4 linked regions of the Homo sapiens genome follow. The protein of the gene in region 1 interacts with the protein of each later gene in a biochemical or structural test. Each region holds a gene or a part of one and is shown in the gene's direction. Other genes may lie near its edges. The genes, in order: MAVS, RIGI, DDX3X and IRF5.

Region 1 (7,025 bases):
TGCCACCCCTTGCCCTGATCCATGGCTGCTCCCACTCATGGTGGTAGGAGAGGGACAGCAGTGGGGGAAGTGTCCAGGATTGCATGAGGCTAAGGTCAAAGTAGAAAAGGTAGACACAGGAGAGGGGAGGTTTCCCAGGTGGGAGAGGAAAAAGCGGAGAGAATAATTAATAATGGTCTTCAGGCTCCTAGGTACCATTTCACTGTGTGCCAGGACAGACCTGGGGCTACAGGTCAAGGACTGAGGGCAGCTGTTGGGCTTTCAGGCCAGGAAGCAGTGACCAAAGGGACTGTGGCATCTCCTCCAAGGGCAGGAGATTTGGAGGCCTAGACACAGTAGGGACCATGAGATCTGGGCCAGAGGGACCCTTCTCCAGGCCTCAAGGTAATGGTCTTTGGGTCTGTGTTTCCACTTGTGTTTTTCCACCGGCAGGTGCGACCTCCAGCCTCACACCATCCCGTGGGCCTGTGTCTCCATCTGTCTCCTTCCAGCCCCTGGCCCGTTCCACCCCCAGGGCAAGCCGCTTGCCTGGACCCACAGGGTCAGTTGTATCTACTGGCACCTCCTTCTCCTCCTCATCCCCTGGCTTGGCCTCTGCAGGGGCTGCAGAGGGTAAACAGGGTGCAGAGAGTGACCAGGCCGAGCCTATCATCTGCTCCAGTGGGGCAGAGGCACCTGCCAACTCTCTGCCCTCCAAAGTGCCTACCACCTTGATGCCTGTGAACACAGTGGCCCTGAAAGTGCCTGCCAACCCAGCATCTGTCAGCACAGTGCCCTCCAAGTTGCCAACTAGCTCAAAGCCCCCTGGTGCAGTGCCTTCTAATGCGCTCACCAATCCAGCACCATCCAAATTGCCCATCAACTCAACCCGTGCTGGCATGGTGCCATCCAAAGTGCCTACTAGCATGGTGCTCACCAAGGTGTCTGCCAGCACAGTCCCCACTGACGGGAGCAGCAGAAATGAGGTGAGTCCTCGCCCTTCCTGGCAGGGATCCTGGCCCCTTCCCCCGGGACAGCTTGCCCACCTGGCCCTGGCCTTGGCCCCTTCCCAGTCTGCATTCTGTGTCCAGCCTGTGCTGCTCTGTGGCCTCTCCTTGAGGGCATACAGACAGTTGAGAACCAGCCTCATGCAGGCCCCACACCATGTTCTCCAGGAGGAACAGTCATTGAGCTTCTAAGTCTGGACACCTCAGGAGGGTCAGCCACAGGGGGCACCCACTGGTCAGGTGTATAAGTTCATTTAGGGCTCGTAGTTCCTAGTGAAGCCGAGCGGTGCCGTTTTGCACATAAGGAAGCAGTGACGGGGACAGCACAGTGGCCCATCTGCCTCTTGCCTTGCTCTTCACCAGGATGCCTGGTGTGTCCCTCCATGGCCAGGCTTTACAGAACGCAGTCCCACCTGGAGCAGCCACTCGGACCCAGCAGCCCCCCATTGTTGCCTGCTCCAAGCCTCACATCTAACCCTAGCTGCGGCTGTCTGCTGGGAAGAGCCAAGTCCATAGGGCCCTTTGGGCACATGGCCAGGCCTCTGACCCTGTGGCTGCTCTCTAGTTCTCAGGCCCAGGCAGGATGTCAGTGCAGGATGGAGCCCCGCCCTACCAAAGGCTTCCAGGTGGGCATGAGCTCACAGGCAGGCCAGGGAGTAGGGAAAGGCTGCCCTGGAGGAGGCCACCATTGGTGCAGATTCTTGGTCCCCTCTACCCCCACTGCTCCAAGAAAAGGTGGCCTAGGGGCATTATAGATTGGGAATTGAGGGGTTGGAGTGTTAGTTCATGCCCTGGCCTGGGAATGGGACCGCCCTACCAGGTTCGTCTCCCTGCCAACCCCAGTCCCTTCCAGTGCTCTCCTTTCTTTCCCAGGAGACCCCAGCAGCTCCAACACCCGCCGGCGCCACTGGAGGCAGCTCAGCCTGGCTAGACAGCAGCTCTGAGAATAGGGGCCTTGGGTCGGAGCTGAGTAAGCCTGGCGTGCTGGCATCCCAGGTAGACAGCCCGTTCTCGGGCTGCTTCGAGGATCTTGCCATCAGTGCCAGCACCTCCTTGGGCATGGGGCCCTGCCATGGCCCAGAGGAGAATGAGTATAAGTCCGAGGGCACCTTTGGGATCCACGTGGCTGAGAACCCCAGCATCCAGCTCCTGGAGGGCAACCCTGGGCCACCTGCGGACCCGGATGGCGGCCCCAGGCCACAAGCCGACCGGAAGTTCCAGGAGAGGGAGGTGCCATGCCACAGGCCCTCACCTGGGGCTCTGTGGCTCCAGGTGGCTGTGACAGGGGTGCTGGTAGTCACACTCCTGGTGGTGCTGTACCGGCGGCGTCTGCACTAGTGAAGCCCTGGGCTCTTCCCACCACCCATCTGTTCCGTTCCTGCAGTACACCTGGCCCCTCTCCGAAGCCCCTTGTCCCTTTCTTGGGGATTGTGGAGGCTGGGTCAGAGGGGAGTTAAGGGACTGCAGGCCTGGCAGCAGGACATGCCTTGGCTGAACCAAGTCCTGAGAGCAGCATCTCTGTCCCCACGGTGCCTTGTGTGGGTCCCCGTCCTTGGCTTTCTGGGTCCTGGGCTGCCCCCAGTGCTCCAGACCTTCCCCACTGGCAATCCAGGTTATCATCCATGTCCTCCAGAGGAGCTTCCTCCTCCAGGCCTCAGCCCTGTTGGCCCAGGTGGAGCAGGAGGGACCACTGGAACATGTGGTGCTTGGGAATGCCTCTCCTGTTGCATTGGTCCCTGAAGGCCTCAGGGCAGGTATGTGGTGTGTGGGCGACTCCACAAGACCTGCCTCCCATCCTGGCAGCCCAGCCTGAGACCGTTGCATTGAGGCAGGCAGGAGCGGCAGGGTGGCTGCTCTCCAGGAGCCCAACTGCCTTGAGTTCCTGCCCCACTGGGCCCCCTCCCCTGCTGGGCAATCCTGGGAAGGTCTGGAGGTTCCTGTGGACCTCAGGGAAGCCAGGGGCAGCTGTCAGGCCTGAGGAAGACCTGTGGAGCTCCTCTCCAGCCTCCTCTTTCCCTCCCCTCTGGTCTCCATTCTCTTCAGCTCCCTACATGGGCTGGGGAGGAGACACCTGGTGGGCAGAGCTCAGGCAGAGGTTTGGATTTCAGCTCCCTCACTTCCGGGGCTGTGTGGCTTTGGCAGATGTCAGACTTCTGGTCTTGCTTCTCCACGTGGACAGTGAGTATCTGGCTCATTCTTCACTGGGTTCTTCTGAGATTGAACCTACAGGTGTTTGCCAAGTGCCTGGCCCAGAGCAAGTGGCCACTGCTTCTCCCATCTCTCTCCTGCCCAACCTGGTAGAGCTGAGGGCATGAGAGGCAGAGTGCACAGTGGTCAAGGGTGCAGCTCTGCAGCACAGGCAGCCTAGGCCTGCGTCCCAACCTGCCTCTCACCAGCTCTGTGACCTTGGGCAAGGGATTTATCTGTCTGTCCCTTAGTTTTCTCACCTGTAAAAGGAGGATAAGTATATATATATATTTCCCAGTGTTGTGAAGATTAAAGGAGTTTATCGATGTAGGTCTTAGGATGAGTCCTGGCATTTACCAAGGGTTGGATATATGTTATTATCACTATTAAGTGTTGAGGGTCCAGGCATGCTGGGCAACAGGGACCCCATCTCTACAAAAAAGTTTAAAAAATTAGCCAGGCGTGGTGGTGCACCTGTCGTCTTAGCTACTTGGGAGGCTGAGGTGGGAGGATCACTTGAGCCCAGAAGCTTGAAGCTGCAGTGAGCTAGGATCGTGCCACTGCACTCCAACCTGGGTGAGAGAGCGAGACCCTGTCTCAAGAAAAAGAAAAATGCAGAGAAACAGGAGTCTTGGCTACTCCTTTAGAGGCAGACTCAGACCCTCCTGCCTCACAGCTTTATCTTTGTATTTGCCCCTTACTTTATCTTGTGCCTTGAGAAATTGCTGGGGAGAGAGGTATGTCCACTGGGCAGCTGTACAGGATGGAGGATATAGGGCGTTTCCACTCCCAGCAGCCAGGTTCCCTCACCCCAAGCTCACCCACTGTTGGGGAGATTATCTACAATAACACCAGAAACACATTGGGGTGGATTGGGGGTATCCTTATGGGTTCTTTTCAGGGAACCATTGCTGGACAAGGCACAGGAGCCACCTCCATTTCTGAGCTCTGCAAGGGACAAGAACTAGAGCCATCAGGGGCTGGGCTCACTGTGGCCCCACCCCAAGCCGTCAGCCTCCAGGGATCTACACCCTGCCTTGGCTGCTACAGCTTTTTCACTCCACTGCCCTAGGGGAGTTCAGCAACCTAATGATCTCTATCTCTGAACATCTCTTCATCCCATGCTCCAAGTCCAGCAACCTGCACCCTGGAACCAGGAGTGGACCCTACCCGAGCTGTCTGTATTAATCCCCATCCCCCACCACCAATCTTAAAAAGCCCTCTGTCCCCCTACCCTAAACCCCAGTTAGGTACCCATGCTGGGCAGGTCAGTTAACAATTTATGCACAGGTACTAGTTTTATTGTATTACCGTTCCAGGGTAGCTTTGAAAAAAGTATCTCAAAAAGGCAACATGGGCCGAGCGCAGTGGCTCACGCCTGTAATCCCAGCACTTTGGGAGGCCAAGGTGGGCAGATCGCCTGAGGTCTGGAGTTCAAGACCAGCCTGGCCAACAGGGTGAAACCCCGTCTCTACAAAAATAAGAAAATTAGCCAGGTGTAGTGGCAGACGTCTGTAATCCCAGCTATTCAGGAGGCTGAGGCACGAGAATTCCATGAACCCAGGATGCGGAGGTTGCAGTGAGCCGAGATTGTGCCACTGCGCTCCAGCCTGGGCGACAGAGTGGTATTCTGTTTCAAAAAAAAAAAAAAAGGCAGTATGTAGCCCCGAAGACTGTTGCCCAAGTGGTAGAATGTTAGCACACTACCAGCCTAGGTAAAAAATACAAAAAGTAACTGGGCATGGCGGCGCCCATCTATAGTCCCAGCTACATGGGAGGCTGAGGTGGGAAGATAAGTCACTTGAGCCCGCCAGGAGGCGGAGGTTGTAGTGAGCTGAGATCGCACCACTGCACTCCAGCCTGGGTGACCGAGTGATACTCTGTCTCAAAGAAAAAAAATTATAATTTTAGCACAGTAACCAGCCATGATGGGAGATACCCTGGGTAAGGCATGTAGAAAGGGTTGAGGGACCTTCCCAGTCCCCTAGCCCCGCCTCCCATCCTCCCATCTTTTTCTTTTTTCTTTTTTTTAGAGAATCACCCAGCCTGGAGCGAAGTGGTGCAATCATAACTCACTGTATCCTTAAACTCCCGGGCTTAAGCGATCCTCCTGCCTCAGCCTTCTGAGTAACTAGGACTTCAGGTACCTGTCACCATGCCTGGCTAATTAAATTTTTTTTTCTTTTTTTTTTTTGAGATGGAGTCTTGCTCTGTCACCCAGGCTGGAGTGCAGTGGCGCGATCTCAGCTCACTGCGACCTCCACCTCCTGGGTTCAGGCCATTCTCCCGCCTCAGCCTCCAGAGTAGCTGGGACTACAGGCGCCTGCCACCACGCCTGGCTAATTTTTTTGCACTTTTAGTAGAGACGGGGTTTCACTGTGTTAGCCAGGATGGTCTCGATCTCCTGACCTTGTGATCCGCCCGCCTCGGCCTCCCAAAGTGCTGGGATTACAGGCGTGAGCCACCGCGCCCAGCCAAATTAAATTTTTTATAGAGATGAGGTCATGCTGTTATGTTGCCCAGGTTGGCCTCATGAGATCTTGCCTTAGCCTCCCAAAGTGCTGGGATTACAGATGTGAGACACTGCACCCAAACCCCACCACTTTTTTTTTTCCTTTTTCTTTTTTTGAGACAGTCTTACTCCGTTGCCCAGGCTGGAGTGTAGTGGCATGATCTCAGCTCACTGCAACCTCCGCCTCCCGGGTTCAAGCAATTCTCCTGCCTCAGCCTCCCGAGTAGCTGGGATTACAGAGGCCTGCCACCACACCCGACTAATTTTCGTATTTTTAGTAGAGACGGGGTTTCTCCATGTTGGCCAGGCTGTTCTTGAACTCCTGACCTCAAGTGCTCCACCTGCGTTGGCTTCCCAAAGTGCTGGGATACAGGAGTGAGCCACTGCGCCTGGCTGATCCCAGCACTTTTCAAATGATGCCGCTCAAAGCCGTGACTTGGCCTACTTTGAACAGCAAACTTGTTGCTGCTGTTGTCAACCTGAAGGCCTCTCAAATGCCAGCTTCAAGCAGGGTGTGAATTGGCCAGTGTCAGATCTCAGGAGTCCTGTGTTGAGAGTGTGGCTTTCAGCTGCGGGGAGCTGCACTTGGTGGGGAAAGCCAGGCAGGTCACCCTCACAGCCAGATAATGTGGAGGTCAGAACCCAAGGAAGGGAGTGAGACCTCCACTCCCAGTGGGGGACCTGGCCACCCATCCTTGGGGACCTGAGAAAGCGTACTTCACCTTGGGGTGAAGGCTGGGTGGGGCCAGAGGGACCAGTGCCCTCCTCAGTGCTTAGGGGCAGAGCCACCTGCAGCAATGGTATCTGCATATTAGCCCCTCTCCACCTTCTTTCTCCCGCTGAATCATTTCCCTCAAAGCCCAAGAGCTGTCACTGCTTCTTTCTCCCTGGGAAGAATGCGTGGACTCTGCCTGGTGATAGACTGAAGCCAGAACAGTGCCACACCCTCGCCTTAATTCCTTGCTAGGTGTTCTCAGATTTATGAGACTTCTTAGTCAAATATGAGGGAGGTTGGATGTGGTGGCTTGTGCCTGTAATCCCAGCATTTTGGGAAGCCGAGGTGGGAGGATCCCTTGAAGCCAGGAGTTTGAGACAAGCCTGGGCAACAAAGCAAGACCCTATCTCTAAAAAAAAAAAAAAAAAAAAAAAAAAAAAAAAAAAAAAAAAATCTAGGAGATGCTCTTTACCCTGCCTGGCCTCAAACTATTAATAGCTTCCTTTGAGCAACATTATTTATTATGAACTTTCAAACACAAAAAAGTAGAGAGAGTAGAATAACAAATCCCCATGAGCCCATCACCCAACTTCAGTAATTATCAATTCATGGCCATCTTGTTCAC
Region 2 (7,025 bases), on another chromosome or scaffold:
AAATAAAATAAAATAAAAACAGAAAATAATGCATATAGGTGAGGATGTGGAGAAACTGCAACCCTGTGCCTGATTGGTAGGATTGTAAAATGGTGTTAACAGCCATGGAAAACAGTATGGCAGTCCCTCAAAAAATTGAAAATATATATCACCATATGATCCAGCAATTCTGCTTCTGGTGTATTTCCAAAAGAATTGAAAGCAAGGTATTGATGAGATATTTGCACATCCATGTTGATAGTAGCATTATTCGTGATAGCTTACAAGGTAGAAGCAACTCAAATGTCCATCAGTGATGAATGGATCAACAAAATGTGATATACACATACAATGGAATATTATTCAGCCTTAAAAAAAAAAGGAAATCCTGGCACATCCTGCAAAATGGACATACATTGAGGGTGCTGTGCTGAGTGAAATAAGCCAGTCACAAAAAGACAAATATTGTATTTTGCCACCTATATAGATTATCTAAAGTAGTCAGATTCATAGAAACAGAAAGAGTGGTGGTTACCAGGAGCAGGGGTGAGGAGAGAAAAAGGAATAGTTGTTTCATAGAGTTTTAGATTTGCAAGGTGAAAAAGGTCTGGATTTTTTTTTTATAACAAAATGAATTTAACACGACTGAACTGTACATTTAAAAATAGTTAAGATGGTAAATGTTTTATCTGTTTTTTACTACAATTTTAAAAAAGAATGAGGTTGAACATCTTATGTATGTTTCTTGGCCATTAGTATTTTTCTCTGAACTTTCTAAATATGATTTTTAAATAAATATCTTTTAAAGGCATGTAGAATAATATTAAGTAAATTTCCCATTTACTTAATATTATCTTAGAAAAATTAGAAGGAAAGTTCCTTGTGGGCAGGAATTAAGGTTTATATTTCTTTTTGCCTTCTTTACTGCTTTCCACTGAGAAGATACTTAATAAACCTGTTGACTCTGACTTTTTAAAGACAAATCAGGGATTGTAGGTGAAGTCTATGAGTCACTTTGGAAGAAAGATTTTATACTAAGATCAAAATGTAAGACTTCAAAGTTTTCCTTAGTACTTTTTCCCAATAGATAATAAATATTGCTAGAAGACCTAAAGTGTTGGCTGACTAAAATGAATACTGTTTTCTTTTTGAAAAATCAATGACAATTGGGGGTAATTTACAGATATTTTTTGAATTCTACCACCATACATTCAAACATGATTTCTATGATACTAATCTCAAAGTATTTTTCAGTTGGTTTCATAAAAGTCCACATTTTTTTTCTTTTTTTTCAGGTTATTCTGGACTTTATGAAGCCATTGAAAGTTGGGATTTCAAAAAAATTGAAAAGTTGGAGGAGTATAGATTACTTTTAAAACGTTTACAACCAGAATTTAAAACCAGAATTATCCCAACCGATATCATTTCTGATCTGTCTGAATGTTTAATTAATCAGGAATGTGAAGAAATTCTACAGGTAAGTTAATATAAAATACTAAAATTGGGGGAAATAATTATAACATGGGAAGGTCTTCTGTTTTCTATACTGTTTTAGACCTGAGAAAGATCATTGAAACCCACAAAAGTACTCATAGAATAGTACTTTTTTTTTTTTGAGACGGAGTCTCGCTCTGTCGCCCAGGCTGGAGTGCAATGGTGTGATCTCGGCTCATTGCAACCTCCGCCTCCTGAGTTCAACCAATTCTCCTGCCTCGCCTCTCGAGTAGCTGGGATTACAGGTGCGTGCTACCATGCCCAGCTAATTTTTGTATTTTTAGTAGAGATGGGGTTTCACCATGTTGGTCAGGCTGGTCTCGAACTCCTGACCTCGTGATCCACCCGCCTTGGCCTCTCAAAGTGCTGGGATTACAGGCGTGAGCCACCGTGCTCAGCCAGAATAGTACTTTTAATGTGAACTGAGTAATTTTTATGTCACAAAGTTTTTTTGAAGTTTGCCCTATTTTCAGTTAAAATCACCACAGTCTGTGAATAGTATTTTATGCAAATTTAAATTGAACAGTTGAGCAAATGAGAAAGGGCTACAGACTCTAGCAGTTAAGTGTTTAGACTCTGGACACAGATGAATTTTGTTAGAATCATAGCTCAACCACTAGCGGTATGATCTTGGGCAAGTTACTTAGTTTCTCTGAATATCTATCTGTTTCCTTGTGTGTAAAATGGAAATAATAATGTTACCTTATAATATGGTATTTTCATAAGGGTAATGAGATAATATATGTAAAGTACTCATGTATGTCTTGCACAGAGTATGTGTACAATAAACTTTAGTTATTATGGTTAGTAAAAGTCATACAAATTCCTCAACCCTGAAGAAAAATTTGTTAATATTTTGTTATCTGTTTCCAAATATTGCTATATGCCAATATACCCATATTGGGAATGGTTGTCAAATGATTATTTTCTTAATATTGCTGATGAGGATAGGTATAAGAACTTAGAGGTGATGAGAAGGCTTGGCTTGACATAGTGACATCATGTGTAAAGGACAAAGATGAAGGAAAAAGTATCTTAAAAGACTGTGTTGGATGGGGCAAAAATTGTCATGGATATGACCCACTGAGCTGTAATGTACAATGGCTTTAAATCAGATAGTACATGACTGACATTTCTTCAGTAAAAATTGATAAAGGGAAAACTTTTGAGATAATTGATCAATAAACTACAGTTACCTTGCTTAGATTTGCTCTACTAAGGGGATGATGGCAGGTGCAGAGAAATTGGTGGAATGCCTTCTCAGATCAGACAAGGAAAACTGGCCCAAAACTTTGAAACTTGCTTTGGAGAAAGAAAGGAACAAGTTCAGTGAACTGTGGATTGTAGAGAAAGGTAAGACACTGTACCCTCCTCACAGCTCTACTTAGGACTCGCTCATTCCAACCGGTCTTTTACATCCCATCAGAGGCGTTTTTCCCCTCAGATAGCCAGAGCTACATCTCTAACGCGAGACCAGCAGGAAGCTGGATTCTGGGAGGGAGGCAGTTACTTGCCTACAAAATTAGTTTGGTTGCATATAACCCCTAAAAATGGACTGGGGAAAACCACTCTCATCCAGAATTAGCCCATCTGGCCCAAAGGATTTGAGGAAGGCAAAATCCGAACTCTCAGTCTAAGTTTAGATTATCAGAGAAATAGCTTGAGAATTCTAGAGTTAAAGGTTCAAACTCCAGGACTTACCCCCTTTTCAGAGTTGATTTCTTGACAGACATTGCCTGGTTCTCTTACTGGAAGCCATCTGGAACTGAATCCGACGGGTGAAAGAATTGGTTGTCATTAAGTGTCTGAACTATCATTTGGTTTCTTGAAGCTGACACTCAGCATTGTTTCAAAGGCTGAGTTTGGTAAACATCTGAATATCTGGTCTTAGCTTTCCTAGGCTTCTTTAGATCATAAGTTGTTTCAGAAACTGTATAAATACACATCTGATTTAATGGGTCAAGAGTCAGTCAGAAAAGGAAGACATGAATGTCTGCTAAATCATGCTCTTTTTTTTTTTTTTTTTTTTTGGTGCATACGAATCCCTCCGAGGTCTTGTTAAAATGTGGATTCTGATTCAGTAGGGCAATACGTTCCACACTTTGAGTAATATAGCTCTAAATTACATTGGAGGTCAACGCCAAATTGAGATTTTAAACTCAAAATGATTCTTTCAACTGTTTTAAAAGGTGAAGGGGAGTGGTTGTGAGAAATTTTAATAGAAGTTAAAAATCTTAGTGTTATGACCATTTTGTGGAGCTTTCACCATCAAAACTATAATCAGATTATGTGAAGATTCTAAGACTTTTTTGGTCTTAAAAAGGTATAAAAGATGTTGAAACAGAAGATCTTGAGGATAAGATGGAAACTTCTGACATACAGATTTTCTACCAAGAAGATCCAGAATGCCAGAATCTTAGTGAGAATTCATGTCCACCTTCAGGTACCTGGTATTGTTTGTCCTTTTCCATAATGGTGCTCTTCTGGTATTTGGTGTGGGGGCTTGTTTTGCAGTACCCAAAGTCACAGCCTTGTGAAAAGTTTTGTAAGGAAAATTAAGAAAGTAAAGAGAATTTATGTTACAATAGATACTTTTTCTATATTTAGAATGCCATTCTCTCCTAGTTCTTCCACTATCTTTTTTTCTTCTTTTACTATCTTTTTTTTCTTCTTCTACCACTAAGAAAGTATGGGCGTGTCTATATTGGAAATGCAAATAGAGTCTTCACCAAAACCCAATGTCTATGAATTCCCAAATCAACCTTGCTTTCTAAATAAATACTACTTCTATTTCTGAGTCACTTGCTCAATTTCCTTTTAGGATCCCTGGGCTGCCCTGCAAGTTGATGAAGTTAGTGTGCTACCCAAATGCGCCTGGCTGAGAGGTTGAGTAGGGGCTGAGATCCAGCCTGTGTCGTTTGCAACACAGTGCACTGAGGGGCTGTGTCCTCCAAGAGGAGCTCCCTTTTGTCATTTACACAAAGGCACTGTATAAGTTAGCTGTGGCCCTGTGAGGCCCCCTTATGCTTCTCAAAGCATATTTTCTTGATGGTTTTATGAGACCGGCAAGTTGCATAATATGCCATAATAAAAAGTTATGTATAAAAGAGTATCAGGAAGGAAATTGGGATTAATAGTGGTGGTAGAAGAAAAATGATATTAGAATAACATCATAAAGAGAAAATGTGCAGATTACGTCTGCAACTGAATGTTACAAGTTTTTTTGTTTTGTTTTGTTTTTTTGGTCATTTCAGAATAAAATCTGTTACCCCTTGGAAAAAAAAAACAGATACATGAATATGAGTTGCTTTAAATTTTCTGACACGTGAAGATTCTTGCATGCCTTTTGTTGTTGTTGTTGTTATTGTTTTTTGAGACTGAGTCTCTCGCTCTGTTGCTCAGGCTGGCGTGCAGTGGCACAATCTCAGCTCACTGCAACCTTGGGTTCAAGTGATTCTCCTGCCTCAGTCTCCCAAGTAGCTGGGACCACAGGCATGTGCCACCACATCTGGTTAATTTTTGTATTTTTTTTGGAGAGGTGGGGATTTCAGCATGTCGGCCAGGCTGTTCTTGAACTCCTGACCTCAAGTGATCCATCCACCTCAGCCTCCCAAGTGCTGGGATTACAGGCATGAGCCACTGCACCTGGCCTTTACATGTCTTTCGTGTGAGTTTAATTCACTTAACCTTTTAGAAATTCTCCCTTTCTCTAAAATGGGTAGGTTAGACTCAGTAGATAATTTCCAAAGTCTTTGCTAGCTCTTAATGATTTATATGCCTACCTGTTATTGAGATAAAGCCTTTGATTATTTTTTAAAACTTCTGGTTATGTTGAGAGAAAATATCATTTGAGAACTTGAAGAACGACAAAGCATTATTGCTCCTTAATAAGAAATTGCTTTGAGAATCCAATGTTAACAGTTTGGTTTTCTTCAAAGATCGTGGGAGGATTTGTTGCTTTTTTCACATACAGCATTGCCTTTAGTAGACAGCTTGTCTTACCCTGAATGGGGCCATTCTTTCTTTGGTTTCTGTTAGCCTTCCATGATTGTATAAAAAATAATTCATGTTTTTTTTTTTTTCTTTCTTGCCATCAATACTTTGTCACTGAGAGAATTCTGTACTTCAAATTAGTGGAAAAGCTAGAATGGTTACCAAGAGAAAGGATTCTAAACTTTCTCCAATGAGGATCTTCTTGCTGGAGTCAGAATTTGTGGACATTAGACTGTAGCTATTGCCGTGATTCCTCAGAGCAGGAACTGTTTGGTAATTTTGCTCCTTTTGTATTCCAGAAGTGTCTGATACAAACTTGTACAGCCCATTTAAACCAAGAAATTACCAATTAGAGCTTGCTTTGCCTGCTATGAAAGGAAAAAACACAATAATATGTGCTCCTACAGGTAAGCCTATTGCCATTACTTACATAGTTTTTCTGTTTGCTTCCTTTTTTTTCTTTTGTTGAATACTGGGACAGAATGGGCAAGTTTCAGTTTTTTCCTTGTTCCATGTGTCTTTTGAGAAAACTGTCCTAATATAATCCTAATGTTTTTTATGGGATTATGTAATTAATTAATTATGTACATTAATGTATTTAATGTATTTTCTTTACCTTTCATGAGAAGGTAAAGAAAAGTGTCCTCTTTTAGCTTGCTTTTGGGTCCTGGCTGTTGGCATGCTACTTAGGGAGCAGCTTGATATTTTTTAGTCATAGTGTAAATTCTGTAATCATTAACATATTTAAATTATCAATTAATTAGTCAGCTCAGTGGTATTAGAAGAGCCAAAAATAAACACCTTTCCAGAGAAATATCTAATATATGAGTTACATGTTTTCTTTTTTCCTTACATGTTAAAAGGTTGTGGAAAAACCTTTGTTTCACTGCTTATATGTGAACATCATCTTAAAAAATTCCCACAAGGACAAAAGGGGAAAGTTGTCTTTTTTGCGAATCAGATCCCAGTGTATGAACAGCAGAAATCTGTATTCTCAAAATACTTTGAAAGACATGGGTAGGTATAATAGTTGCTTCAACTTCTTTTTCTCCAGCTTCATGTAATTGATGTGTTTTCTGTTTTGTTTTTGACAAATGATTTAAAAAAATTTATATTAGATTCAGCTTTTTTATAATCCAGATGTTATCCCTTCATGGATTCAAGTCTTTTTTGTTAGATGTACCAGAAAACTTAAACTCCCCTGGTTTGCCCTTCTATGGGGAGTAAATGACTTCAGGAATAAATTTGATGTTTACGTGGCACATTTAACTTCTTTAGTGATTTTATAATTTATTTGATATTATTCTTTTACGTACTCTTTTCTCTCTTAGTGACTTAAAATAATATATAGTACTATAAATTACAACTAGCTTGGATTTATTGATCTCTTACTATGTGTCAGGCTCTGTGCTAAGGACTTGCCTACAGCTATTCTTCTTTTGGACTCAGGGAGAATTTAATCAGTTGATGTTCTGATCTAGCATTTCATCTTTGTGGTTCCTTATCCACATCGTGGTTAGTAATATGGAATTTCTGTCATTTCCCAGGTATAGAGTTAC
Region 3 (7,025 bases), on another chromosome or scaffold:
AATTAAATTTGGACAGTTTCTACTGAACAGCACAAGCATCTTGGTGTGCCGCCTTCTGTAGTATATACAATAGTAATATTGCATTTGCTTAGAGCATTGCAGACTTGAAAACATTCTTAGTCACATTCTCATTAAGGGTTGGTATTAGCCCTGTGAGGTGGACTGGGCAACTACTTGAATGCAGTACTAGCAAATGCTAGAGGGCAGGACTAGTTTTCTCTTAATGTAGTATTTGAGCACATGGGGTGCTAACCATCTCACTCTCTTCTAGTTTGCTGGCCTAGACCTGAACTCTTCAGATAATCAGAGTGGAGGAAGTACAGCCAGCAGTAAGTACAACATCTTGTGGGTTTATTGAATATTAGAGCTTAACATCTTAAGATTTCATTGGGCTTATGTAAAATTTAAGAAATTTGCCTTTCAATTTTTTACTGCTTAAAGAATTATGTAGTCTTTGTGTTATAGAATTATGTAGTACTTAGTGATCAATCTAAAGCATCGTTGCCTTTTTTTTTTTTTTTTGGTTGAGATGGAGCTTTGCTCTTGTTGCCCAGGTTGGAGTGCAATGGTGTGATCTCGGCTCACCGCAGTCTCTGCCTCCGGGTTCAAGCGATTCTCCTGCCTCAGCCTCCCGAATAGCTGTGCCTTTCTGATAATAAAACATCAATGACTAGCTGGCTCTCTTGAGTAAAAGCAGCTAATCATTGGAAAGAACCTTATTATATCAAATTATCTCTAGAAGAGTTTTTGTCCATTATAAATCCTGAGCCCAGTTTAGAGGTGATGGGAATGTGTCCCTGTTAACTGACTATATTTATTAAATTGAATTAAGGGAATATGCATTTCATTGGTTATAGCTACTCCTTTCTCCTGAAGAACAGAAGACTATACTGAATTTTGGATTGGTGGTTAGGTTAGGTTTTCAAATGTGTCATTTCTTTTAAAAAGGCATTAGAAAAGTTGCTTTTTTTCTTCTAAGGGGGGTTATTTAGAGACTTGTTAGAGGTTAGTGTTAAGATAGGGGATCTTGGTGGTTTATTATAAGGGCAATAGACCCTTATTTTTAGCTCAGATCTCTTCCTACTTATTAAAACAAAAGTGAGTATGGGCTATGATGTGTCCTCATTTTTAGGCAAGAACAGCTTCACTGGGAACAAAACTTGGTGTTTGCTTTAACTTTCACCTTATTTGTCATGCTAAGAATCTTTTAGGAACTGATTGTCCTAGTAGAGATTTTTAAAAATATTTAATTCAGTCTAGAAGTGAAAAAGAAAAATGACACGTTTACTAGTTATAAAGCAAATTTATTTGGCTTTATGTTGTTTTTTTTGCTTATCCATATTCTAGGCTGTACTCCTGCTCGCATACAGAGCAACTGTCAACTTTCCTTAAACTCAGCAAGCCCCAAATTAAAACCTGCAATTCCTTGAAATTAACTCCCCTTTGCAGCTTTTCCTTGTTTATTTATTGTATGTTTTGCAACTTACTGGCATAGAAACAAAAGATTGTGAGATATGTTACATGAGTAATCTTAAATTGTTACAGTAATACTTAATGCTTTTGTTGACAGTTTTGATGACAGTTCTCTTAAATCTAGCAGGCCTTTAAAAAAATCACATTAAATGACCACTGGTGGCTAAATGTGCTCAATTTGTGGATTTCAACTATTAGGTTCCAAATCAGCTTTTTTTTATCAAACTCCTTTCAGAGTTCTCCTTATGAAGCAGTAACCCATTTAAAATTAGATTCTTATTTTTCCCCCCTCTCAGTGTCCAGGTAAGTAATCAGATTGGAAGGCTGGAGATTTTAATTTCCCAGAACCATTTTTTAGTAACAGAAATTTAAATGGGAAGGTTTTTTGGCATTTAATTAATTTTATATATATATATATTTTTTTAGAAGGGCGCTATATTCCTCCTCATTTAAGGAACCGAGAAGCTACTAAAGGTAGGTCCTCACAAGTAACTTCGTAGGTCTATTTTTTGCCTCCTTTAGAAGTTAGTAAAGCCTAAGGAAAACCAGGCATTTGGGGGAGGTCTAAACATGGTGTTGTTTTTCTATGCTTCTGTCAGCCTTGGTTCAAATACTAGAGCTTAATAATTTTGGAAGAACTCATCTAATGTTACGCAGTGGGAAATTCGGCATTCCTATGTCAAACTGTTCTGACGCCAAGGGCATGGTTTTGTACAGTTTCACTAGTGTTGTGCTGAATCTGTTTGTAATCATTCACAGCATGGTTTTAGTTTGGAAGAGGTGGGTGCCCTACTGTGTAAACCAAGCTGTATAATGATAACAACCTGGTTATTTCTGTCTTGGCAAAGTTGCTAGAAATGAAGATGGGCTTATTGTAGAACAGTTAACAAGTTACAGCGTTGGAAGTGATTCTCTGGTTTCATCTCCTTGCCTTGCTGCTTTTGAAAGGTTTTGTCCAAAATGTATTACAATATCTGGTGTCTTTTCCCATTGTAATTGTAACGTAGTGATAGATGACAGCTAGTATATGTTTCATATTATGAGACAGCTGTTCGGGTGCTTTATATTCTGTAAAATAGACCATCCAAAATTTGGAGGAAAAGGGAAAGTCAGGAAAACCAAAGATTAGGAGGGAAGATACTGTATAAAGAAGGCAGATAGGAAGAGTGGAGAGTCCACAGGGGAGCACATGGTTTGCTGCTGTTCCTCCATCTCCATATGTAGTCTGTATTACCTTCACTGTCCTGGCAATGCATGGATATAAAATCTGTATTATTTCTACCAGAAGATCACTTTGGCTTTTTTTTTTTTTTTTTTTTTTTGAGACGGAGCCTTGCTCTGCTGCGGAGGCTGGAGTGCAGTAGCGCGGGCTCACTGCAACCTCCGCCTCCTGGGTTCAAGTGATTCTCCTGCCTCAGCCTCCCAAGTAGCTGGGATCACAGGCATGTGCCACCATGCCCGGCTAATTTTTGTATATTTAGTAGAGACGGGGTTTTGCCTTGTTGCCTAGGCTGGTCTCGAACTCCTGACCTCAAGTGATCCACCCGCCTCAGCCTCCCAAAGTGCTGGGATTACAGGCGTGAGCCACCATGCCTGGCTGGCATTATATTCTTTTTAGGGGAGGTTACTTTGGAATTTGTCTTTATCATCATGGATGTTCTCAATATTCCTAGTATACTAGCTAGAATTGACCCTCGTGTATATGGCAGTATCATAGAGGTTTTAGAGCTGGTAGAGATCTGGCAATCTAACTTAACTCTTTCTTGCTAGCAAAGGCTGTTGGTCACCTGACTGGCCTAACGGTAGGAGGTAGAAGGCAGAAGGAAAGTAACTGAATTGAGAAGCTGTTTCTGTTTAATAAGGTGTTGCTGAAGCTAGTTAAACCCTCTACCTGTCTTTAAACCCTCTACCTGTCTTTGGGTTAATTTACATGTTTGTCATCCCCTTACCTGGATATTTATAGCTGTACCCAGGAACCTTGTCTATACTGAGAATATATAGTGATGAGGGTTTTTCTTTTTCCCAGGTATTCCTGATTGTCATCAAGCTTATAGTAGATGAACCACTAAAATAATACTACAATTTGACATTAGTGTTCTTGTACTTTATACTATTGAAACTGAAAAATACTGTATTAAACCAAGTAATCTGACAGTCTATGAATGTTCTAAATGAATACCACCTCCAAGAAACATGGAAACAATGGTAACTGTTTTTCCTAGTAAACTCATTCACACCTATAAAATGAATGGAAATTAAATTGTTATGGTCACACAACGTCATAATGCGTTACAGGCAAAGCTGTTGACCACTTAGAGGTAGTATTCATTGAGAAACATTCTTAGACTGTCAGATTGCTTGATTTAGTGTAAAGTAATTTTTTTTTTTTTGAGACAAGGGTGTTTCACTCTTGTTTCCCGTGCTGGAGTGCAGTGGCGCAATCTTGGCTCACTGCAACCTCAGCCTCCCGGGTTCAAGTGATTCTCCTGCCTCAGCCTCCTGAGTAGCTGGGATTACAGACGTGGGCCACCACGCCTGGCTAATATTGTATATGTAGTAGAGACGGGGTTTCTCCATGTTGGTCAGGCTAGTCTCGAACTCCTGACCTCAGGTGACCTGCCCGCCTTGGCCTCCCAAAGTGCTGGGATTACAGGCGTGAGCCACCATGCCTGGCCAGTGGACAGTATTTTCTAGTGGGGAGAATTAAAGAAAAACTTTGTCCGGGTGTAAACCAGCTTTAAATCTTGGTTCTCTTACAGTGCCATGGTAGGGATAGTCAGTGGAGGCTTTCAAATTCAGAAAGATTGATAATACCTTAACATGGTTCCTATTTCTAATTAATAATAAAATGTATTTGTGCTTTTTTAATCAAAGGTTTCTACGATAAAGACAGTTCAGGGTGGAGTTCTAGCAAAGATAAGGATGCGTATAGCAGTTTTGGATCTCGTAGTGATTCAAGAGGGAAGTCTAGCTTCTTCAGTGATCGTGGAAGTGGATCAAGGGGAAGGTAAGTGATTTCTTAATCACCTTACGTGTATGTATAATAACAGTTTAATAAGTCGTTATCCTGACCACCTGTTTGGATGTTAAGCATTATGTCTGTTTGGTCATTGTATTTTCTTAGCCGTAAGAGGCTTTTACTAAATTGAACCTGTTACTTAGAAATTAGATGAAAATAGGAATATGCTCATTGGCATAATGAAATGAGTTATTCTATTTCTCGAGTTTTATATGTTCTACTTAAAAGAGTAAGTTCATCTAGTGAATGGCCTAATTTGGTTGGGATTTTTGTGGACTCTATAACAATTTCTAAACACCTTGTATTTTTGATTACACAAGTGTGGTGAACTGACCCCACGTGCCTAATAGCTGTGGTTAGTCCTGTGTCCTGATTTTTCGCAAACAGGCCTAAAACTCTTAAAAACATCTTAGTTCAGGTAAGGATTATTTTCTACCTTTTATCCAAAGTCTGTCACACAGGTGAATTGTCCTTTAAGTGACATCCTAGTATAACTAGGACGATTGATATTTGGTGTGCTATTTTCTTGTTTTCCCTACCATTAAATATATTTGGATGAGCACTTTAAATGAAGGTTGTGAGCTGTGTGCCGATTTCAAATAAAATCCTTATTCTTAATTTTGGCATCTGTGAGGCCTTTTAGGCTATACAACTTTATAGAAATGTAAAGATTACTGATTTTAGAAAACGAGGTTATGTAAATGATGCTGGTTAGAGAGCCTTATTTGTCAAGTAACTCAGAATTGGATTGTTGACATCCTTATGGTTAGCCATAACTTAAGTCTCCAGATACAGTTCTAGAGTAGGGATAAGAATCTGATAATGGTTAAATGATATGATTCTGATTAATTGCTTGTGCTGTTCAGGTTTGATGATCGTGGACGGAGTGATTACGATGGCATTGGCAGCCGTGGTGACAGAAGTGGCTTTGGCAAATTTGAACGTGGTGGAAACAGTCGCTGGTGTGACAAATCAGATGAAGATGATTGGTCAAAACCACTCCCACCAAGTGAACGCTTGGAACAGTAAGTTTTTGAAGTGTATGTTACTTGTGATGAAGCCTTACTAGCTAGTATAACAAATGAACTTATCCATTTTTTGATTTGAGGGAACTCTTTTCTGGAGGCAACACTGGGATTAATTTTGAGAAATACGATGACATTCCAGTTGAGGCAACAGGCAACAACTGTCCTCCACATATTGAAAGTGTGAGTATTTTTGCTTGACTTTTTAAGACACAGAGAGGTTAAATGTTTTCATGTTACATTAGAATGTGAGATGGGCTTCATAAAGTCATGTAGACCAGAGGCTTCATAGATTTGTGGAAAAGGAGAAGTTGAGTTCAGTGTCACCATTATGAATAATTTATTACCTAAAATAGAAAATGGGTCAAACATAGGAACAACCCAAAGTCTTCTCCAATGTGCAGTAAGCCTGGGGGTTGGTTTTTCTCAAAGTATAATGTGATAATTTTACTTAAACTATAAACTGAGTTACCAATCAGCTGTTGGTTGGTTGTTTCCATTATTAGTATAAAACAGAAATAGCTCTAGATAGCATTCCTAACCCCATTGAATTTCTTAACAGTTCAGTGATGTTGAGATGGGAGAAATTATCATGGGAAACATTGAGCTTACTCGTTATACTCGCCCAACTCCAGTGCAAAAGCATGCTATTCCTATTATCAAAGAGAAAAGAGACTTGATGGCTTGTGCCCAAACAGGTAAGCTCAACTCATAAGAGTAAAACATCATATTTCTTCTGTAAAGGACTAGACAATAAAATATTTTATTTTTTATGGGTCATGCAGTTTTGCAGCTGCTCTGCGCTGCTATTGGACTGTGAAAGAAGCCATAGATGATACATAAATTATTGGTTACGGCTGTATTCCGTAAGAGCTTTATTTATAAAAATAACAGGCTTTATTTACAAAATAGTCTCAGTTTGCTGACTCCTCTTAGAGGTGGAGCAGAGAAGCCACTTTTTGGAAAACTTAAGCATAAACTAAAAGTACTAATTATTAGTAATAGGGTAGTTAAAAAACACTGTCATCTACCAATGTCTGTTTAAAAGTAATGAGCAGGATTTGTTTGTTTGTTTTTGAACAGGGTCTGGAAAAACTGCAGCATTTCTGTTGCCCATCTTGAGTCAGATTTATTCAGATGGTCCAGGCGAGGCTTTGAGGGCCATGAAGGTAGATGTTTCTTTATAAAATGGGAAATTGTAGAACTTTGTAGGTGGCCATTGAGAGGGCTTTCTAAATGATGCTAAGACTTAAGTAGAATGAAAACCAGTTTTCAAGTGTAATCTGTAATCTATAAATTACAAAAGGGAATTATGTTGTGATGAACTTTTCAAACAGGGTAGGTAGAGTTAACTTAAAAATTAACTTATTTCTTAGGAAAATGGAAGGTATGGGCGCCGCAAACAATACCCAATCTCCTTGGTATTAGCACCAACGAGAGAGTTGGCAGTACAGATCTACGAGGAAGCCAGAAAAGTAAGTATGAGTTCCAGTGATTATTAGCTTTTT
Region 4 (6,879 bases), on another chromosome or scaffold:
TTTTTCTTTTTTCTTTTGAGACGGAGTATCGCTCTGTCACCCAGGCTGGAGTGCAATGGTGCAATCTCGGCTCACTACAACCTCCGCCTTCTGGGTTCAAGCAATTTTCCTGCCTCAGCTTCCCGAGTAGCTGGGATTACAAGTATGAACCACCACGCCTGGCTAACTTTTGTATTTTTTTTTTTTTAGTAGAGACGGGGTTTCCCCATGTTGGCCAGGCTGGTCTCGATCTCCTGACCTCAGGTCATCCACCTGCCTCAGCCTCCCAAAGTGCTGGGATTACAGGCGTGAGCCACCCCACCCGGCCAAGAGGTGTTAAAATCTAAATCAGACTATGTCATGCCTCAGATCTGAACCTTTCAGTGACTGTCCCTAGCAAAGCCATAGCCTGTGAGGTGCCCCTCAAGGCCTCACCCGATTTCATTACTTGAGGATTTATCGTCTATCTTACTCTGCAGAATGGAAGCTCCAGGAGGGCAGGGGTTTTTAGACAAAGTAGAAATTGTCCACCACTTTATCCTGGCAGGTACAACATGCCCGATAAGCATTGTTGAATGTAGACTCACAGCCAATTCGTGACACTGGTGTCACCATTCTCCTTTACAGATGGGAAATGGGGCTTCTGGGGGAGTGAATGGCTTGCTTAGGTCACGCAATTCTAGATTGCAGAGTGAGGATTTGACTCAGACCTGTTGACCTCAGAGCCTGATGTCCAGCCAACAAGTTCTCAGAAACTCGGGGTTTCTGAGAAATAGGACAGTCAGCCTGGGGACCCCTGAGAGCCCAGGCCGAGGGGGTGGGTTTCCTGGGGTAGAGGTTTTGAGAGGCAAAGGCAGTTGTCATCAACCCAGGCTGCACTGAAGGGGGCTGTTCCAGAGCCAGGGTGCATTGTTCAGCTGCCCAGTGGGCCTCTGGGTTTCTTTCAGTTCCCTTTGGTGACACGGCTTCCCTCCTCCCCCCTGCTCCCCACCCCAGCCACCCCACTCTACACTCGCTCACACAGCGTAGCTTCTACTCGAGTCAGGGGAGGGTGCCTCCTACCACACCCTCAGTCTGTGATATTCCAGCCAGGGGAAATGGGGGAAGGGGCCATCTCACTGTGGGGAGTGGGGGGCCCGGACAGACCTCCCTGTCCCCACCGCCTCCTGGCCCATCAAGGGGAAATGGGAGTGCTCACACAAGGGCCGGGTGTGGCTTCACTTCCCCTCTACTTGCCCTTCCACCCCCAGGATGGCACTGGGAGGCCAAGGGATCCCAGATCCTGGAAACACTGGAGTGCTGCTCTCTGTCCTTCCTTTCTCCTGGGCCATGTCTCTGGCCCCAGATGATTCTTGGCTCAGGTTCTTTCAGTTGAGGGAAGTCAGGATCTGAGCCAAGCTGAGCCCCTGCATAGCCTCTATCCCGGGAGCCCCATATCAATGCTGCCGGCTTGGTAACATCATCCCCCTTTTAGAGACGAGGAAATGAGATTTGAGGTCCTACTTAAGGCCACTTGGCTGGAATACAGCAAAGCCAGGTGCAAGCCCCTTCTCTGCACGCAGCCCGTGCTGCTTCTTGAGGTTCAGAGGCTCTAAGGAAGGGGCCTCACCTGAGCAAGATGGACAGTGGGAAGGGGGCAGAGGGCAGAATTCTAGGGTCTCACGGTCCCTCAGAATGGGTGAGGAGTATTTGATAACAAAAGAAGGCTCTTCTTAGCTATTGCTCCAGATACGACCAGCATAGAATATTTTTCTATTAAGCATAACTGACCTCCAGTGAAAAAGGTTCCCATTTTGTGGGGAGCCACTTTTGAAATAGCAATTTCATTTTATTATTATTATTTTGAGATAAGATCTCACTTCTACGCCCAGGCTGGAGTGCGGTGGTGTGCCTCCTGGGTTCAAGCAATTCTCCCACCTCAGCCTCCCAAGTAGGTGGAACTATAGGTGTGTGTCACCACGCCAGGCTAATTTTTGTATTTTTTGTAGAGACAAGGTTTTGCCATATTGCCCAGGCTGGTCTCGAACTCTTGGACTCAAGTGATCTGCCTGCCTTAGCCTCTCAAAGTGTTGGGATTACAAATGTGAGCCACCGTGCCTGGCCTAGCAATTTCATTTTTAAAGAAAGAAATATAAAACGATCTACCCATTCACATTTTCCCCATCCATACTTTAAATTTTAAAAATATGAAATAATGAAATACTCAGCAGATACAAATAATAAAATACTTATATATAATGATATTTCGACTTCATATTAGGGCTTCAAAGGTCAGGAAAGAGGGAGAGATACAGAAGAGAAAAAAAAAAAACGTTAACACATGAGTGTCTTTTTTTAACTTGTTAAAGGTAAAGTTCAACCCAGGAGAAGGGAGGGGAGGGAAGGTCAAAGTTCTGATTCATCAACAAATACTACTTTATTTGTTAAAAATACAAGGCTCTGCTTGGCGCAGTGGCTCCCGCCTGTAATCCCAGCACTTTGGGAGGCCAAGGCGGGTGGATCGCCTGAGGTCAGGAGCTCGAGACCAGCCTGGCCAACATGGTGAAACCCCGTCTCTACTTGGGAGGCTGAGGCAGGAGAATCGCTTGAACTGGGGAGGCAGAGGTTGCAGTGAGCTGAGATCGCACTGCTGCACTCCAGCCCGGGTGACAGAGCAAGACTCCATATCAAAAAATAAAATAAAATAAAATGAACAATGAAAAGACAGGAGGGAGGTTCCTGAGTAAGCTGATTCGAGTGGAAATCAGACATCAAAATTGAAACCCGCTGAATTTTCCAAAAAGCCAGATGCTCATAGAACTGAAGCTTGAGACACTTACATCAGTACACCTGCTGCCTGTTGACCAATTCCTCTTCCTTGTCCCTCCTGTTTTCCTTCCCTGCTATATAAGCCCCTAACTTTAGTCAAGGGGAGGGATGGATTGGAGGTTTGTCTCCCCTCTCAACAGCTCACTGGCTGATGTCACCGGAATAAAGTCTTCCCTGGCAATACTCGCTGTCTCAGTGATAGGCTTTCTGTGCGGTGAGCAGCCAGACCTGGACCAAACCCCTGGCAATCCATAACAAAATCATAAGCAAAATCAACCAGGAAGCTATTTGCACCCTGGAACCCCACCTGGGAGGGGAAGTCAAGGCAGACTTTCCAGAGAAGGCGATGCTGAAAATTTCAGAAACAGAAATTTTGAAGAGCAAGAGTTACCAAGCGAAGAACATTCCATGAGAAGGAACAGGAGGTGTGTGAAGGTGGAGGTTCTGGGGTGAGGTTCTTTATGGAATCGAAAACGGTTCAGAACCACAGGTCGACGGTCAAGGTAGTAGTGAGAGGAGGTGGGACAGGCGACCACGCCGCTGCCCCTGGGATGACTGGAAGGCGACTTAGGGGAGCTGGGGCGAGACAGGTGCAGGGTTTGAGGATGAGAAAGGCACAGAGTGACTAGAGGATTCCCGCCTGCAAGCACATCTGGAAGGGGTGTCTGGATCCTGGGGGCAGCGACTGTGTTCTAGGGCGAGAGCCACCCTCGCCAGGGGTGTAGGCAGGCGAGAGGAGGGCCTGGAGCTGTGGGTCGGCCACACTGCGCCCTCATTTGTGTGCAGCCCCGGAGGACCAGAGTGGGGAAGCACCCCACCCTCTCCCAGGGCCCAACTGAGCACTGCAGCGGGAGGTACGGGGTTGTCAAATGACAGTTTTGCCATTCCAGATTGCCAAAAGAGCCAGTGGCCAGTCTAGGGCACCGCGCCGTCTGGCATCTCCCTGGAGGCCCTGGGCCTGGCCCGAGGCTCAGCCCGGATCTGCAGTTGCCAGGTCAGTGCGGGGCCCGGAGTGGATTCGCGGGGCGGGGCGGGGCACTGCCCGCGCCCGGAGCTCAGCAGCAGCTGCCCAGGGGCGGGGGCGGCAAGACGCGGAAGTGCCCGGCAGGTTGGCGGACCGGCGGGAGGCGCAGCCTGGGCAGAGCTCAGCTTGGTCCCGCCGCCCGGCCGGTGCTCCCTGGCGCAGCCACGCAGGCGCACCGCAGACAGGTGGGTCCCGGCCGCCGCGCTCTCCTCTCTGCGTCCGCGCCCGGCGCGCCCCGAGGGTGGCGGGAGCGGTGCCGGCTACTGCCCCCAAGTCTAGGCCTAGACTGGGCCCCGCGCCCCCCAGGCACCTGCGGGCGGCGGGATGAAGACTGGAGTAGGGCGGGGTCCGCGTCCAGCTGCGCCTGGAAAGCGAGCTCGGGTGGGTGCCTACAGCAGGGTGCGCCCGGCCGGCCTGGGACTTCCAAAGCGCCTCCCACGCCCCGATCGGTTTGGGGTGCTGGCGCCCGGGGAGCCCAGTGACCCAGGCGGCGGAGTGGGCAGCGCTGCGGGGGGCGCCGGCTCTGCTGCTCTCCCTCCCCCTCGCCATCGCCCAGAATGGGGGTTCCCGGGAGCCCCGCTGGAGGCTGGCTTGGACCACAGAGGAGCGAGGCCCGATCCTTACTTTCGATGCACTCGCCCTTGCTCTTACCGGGCCACCCTCACCCTTTCGGAAAAGAGGTTGAGGTTAAAGCGTTCATCCCCCGGGATCTTCAGGCCAATGGCAGGAACTGTGCAAGAGTTTGGGGGAAGATGGTGTCAGGTAGAGGCTGCGTCCCTGGGCTCGCGGCCGGGAATGGCAGACTCTCGTCCCCCGAGCAGCGGAAAAGGATGGGGCGCAATAGTTCCTGGGCTGGTTTCCTCAGGTCCTGTCCCAGAACTTAAGAAGGCAACAATGAAGAGGCTAAACGTGGAGGAAAAGTGAGGCTAGCATGGCCGGGATGCGTGGGGAGATGGTTGTCTCCGGACCCCGGGAGGGGCGGGAGCGGGTACCTGGGAGCAGAGGCTGGAGTGGGGGACTTTCCCAGCCTCGCGGCCACGCTGAACACAGCAGGGCGAGGACCGGGGTGCTGCTCCTCCAGCAGCAGGAGGAGAGGTCCAGAGGCCGACTCTGGAGGTGGGGGTGGCTCCGCGGGCTGGCCCAGGGGGTGTGCCCCAGCGGAGCACGCGGGAGGGGTGGGGGCGGAGGGGAGGGGGGAGCAGGGGCGGAGGACTGGGCTGGGCCTGGGCTCCTCGAGGGCCCAGAATGGGGATAAGTGACCAGAACCAGAGAGGGCTCGGCTGTATCGATGTAGGAAACTGTAGCCCCTCAGGAGGCCCTCTGGCAAGACCTCCCCTTCCTGCCCCCACCCCCAGTAGTTATGGGGCCTGGGGTGCTGGGGCTGAGGGGTTCCAAGAGTCAAGGGAAGCACTGGGAAATCACCCCTTTTTATCTAAAGGCCCTACTTTGGGGTTTTTCCCCTGTACCCTGGTCTTCCCCTACCCTGACCCTGGGAGGAAGCTGAAAGAAGCTTCTTTCTGGGCACCTTTTGCCCCAGAGCCTCAGCCTGTCTGGACCAGGTGGGCAGCAGGGCCCAGGGTGTGGGCAGCTGACCCGGAGGGGTGGGATTTGGGGGTCAGGGCCTGTACAGGGAACCCCTTGTCCTCTCCCTGAGCTGGGTGTGGGTTTGCAAGGAGACATGTGACCCAGACCAACCCTGGGAGCAGCAGGGCGCCTGCTGTCTGGCCACTCTTACTAGGACTGCTGTGGCACTTCCTCCCCTAGTGGGTCCCTGGTGCCCATGAATTGCAGCTCCTGGGTGGTGGTGGGGGCACTGTCTCCTGGGACTCCAGCATGGCCCTGGGGTGAGCTGTGGGCTTACCCCACCTCAGCAGGTCCTCTAGGGCTGCCCACTGGATGCTTCGCTGCCTCACACAATTGTAGGGACTTCCTCAGGCTGTTGGATTTCCCCACCTTCCGGGGCTCAGGTCCATTGACTTAGGTCTAGGGCTCCATACATTTCACCCAGAGACTCCGGAGCCTGGCAGGCAGACCTGTTCTGACACCGAACTTCCAAAGTCATGGGCCTTGATTGGGGTGGTCTGAATTAGACCTAGCCCTTTTCTGGGCAGAAGGGAGCTTCTAGGAGGATGGATGCTGTTCGGGTTAGAGCTCGTGTGGACCTAGCTGCAGGCAAAAGCCTTGAGGCTGAGTCCCTTCTGTGGCATGGTGGACAGACTCTCGCTCATCACAGCCGGGCTTGTCACGGGAGCTCCTCCTCCACACCCCTCCCTAAGCTGCCTGTATGGACGCGGCCCTCTGACACTGAGGTCGGAGTTATCATTTCAAAACCTTGCTCTGTATTAAACAGCCGTGTTGGGCAGGGCCAGACTGCTGGACTGACAGTAGGGGGCAGGCAGCCGGACCCTCTGAGCTCCCCAACGGCACCAGCGCCTGCACGGCCTCAGCCCAGGGGGTCATTAGGGAAGCTCTCCCCGATTCTGTGCAGACAGAGCTTCCTCTGTCCACCCTTGCTCGGCCAGAATTGTGTGCCGCTGGTGACTGGCACCCCTCTATTCTAGGGCCAAGGCCTCTCAGGGGTCTACAGATACAACTATGGGTGGGTGCACACCCATGTTATAAACCACACTAAATGCACAAAAACTGTCTGCAAGTTTGGGGTGCGGGGAACAGCTCTGGGTGGGAGGTTGGAAATTTGGTCTGGGGGACCCACTCGGCTCCCTCCCTCAGCCCACAGTGAGTCTGGTTTCTGAGTTGTCCCGGTCTAGCCACTTTCGTTTCCCCTGGGGCCGGGTGGAGGCTGGGGCAGAAAGCGGAACTGAGCCCGCGTGTTCTGAGGCCAGGGCAGGGCTGGAGCGTTCTGAACACCTCCCCGTCCCAGCCCCTGGGCCAGGCAAGGGCCGGCCTTACCTCTCCTGGGTTGGTGGCAGCAGAGCTGGGCTCTGAGGGAGGCCTGCAATGTGAGACAGTAGCAGCTCAGAGGCGGCACTAGGCAGGTGCAACCCCAAAAGGTACTGGGCAGGGAATTTCAGGGGAAACTGAGGCTCCATGCTGCAAGGCCAAAGCAG

The links.
Region 2: the proteins of MAVS (region 1) and RIGI form a complex in vitro, tested with the Homo sapiens proteins (one study listed by BioGRID).
Region 3: the proteins of MAVS (region 1) and DDX3X form a complex in vitro, tested with the Homo sapiens proteins (one study listed by BioGRID).
Region 4: the proteins of MAVS (region 1) and IRF5 form a complex in vitro, tested with the Homo sapiens proteins (one study listed by BioGRID).

The regions. Positions count from the first base shown.
Region 1 is NC_000020.11:3,863,824-3,870,848, forward strand, and holds part of MAVS (mitochondrial antiviral-signaling protein), read left to right. Parts: intron 1-432; coding exon 433-965; intron 966-1,859; coding exon 1,860-2,324; 3' UTR 2,325-7,025.
Region 2 is NC_000009.12:32,488,192-32,495,216, reverse strand, and holds part of RIGI (antiviral innate immune response receptor RIG-I), read left to right. Parts: intron 1-1,274; coding exon 1,275-1,456; intron 1,457-2,665; exon of another isoform or gene 2,666-2,678; coding exon 2,679-2,826; intron 2,827-3,796; coding exon 3,797-3,916; intron 3,917-5,765; coding exon 5,766-5,873; intron 5,874-6,329; coding exon 6,330-6,483; intron 6,484-7,013; coding exon 7,014-7,025.
Region 3 is NC_000023.11:41,337,137-41,344,161, forward strand, and holds part of DDX3X (ATP-dependent RNA helicase DDX3X), read left to right. Parts: intron 1-271; coding exon 272-329; intron 330-554; exon of another isoform or gene 555-1,899; coding exon 1,900-1,947; intron 1,948-4,347; coding exon 4,348-4,480; intron 4,481-5,358; coding exon 5,359-5,517; intron 5,518-5,600; coding exon 5,601-5,700; intron 5,701-6,079; coding exon 6,080-6,215; intron 6,216-6,600; coding exon 6,601-6,686; intron 6,687-6,893; coding exon 6,894-6,992; intron 6,993-7,025. UniProt on the Homo sapiens protein: Multifunctional ATP-dependent RNA helicase. The ATPase activity can be stimulated by various ribo-and deoxynucleic acids indicative for a relaxed substrate specificity.
Region 4 is NC_000007.14:128,934,054-128,940,932, forward strand, and holds the start of IRF5 (interferon regulatory factor 5), read left to right. Parts: upstream 1-3,873; 5' UTR 3,874-3,996; intron 3,997-4,163; exon of another isoform or gene 4,164-4,192; intron 4,193-5,072; exon of another isoform or gene 5,073-6,879. UniProt on the Homo sapiens protein: Transcription factor that plays a critical role in innate immunity by activating expression of type I interferon (IFN) IFNA and INFB and inflammatory cytokines downstream of endolysosomal toll-like receptors TLR7, TLR8 and TLR9.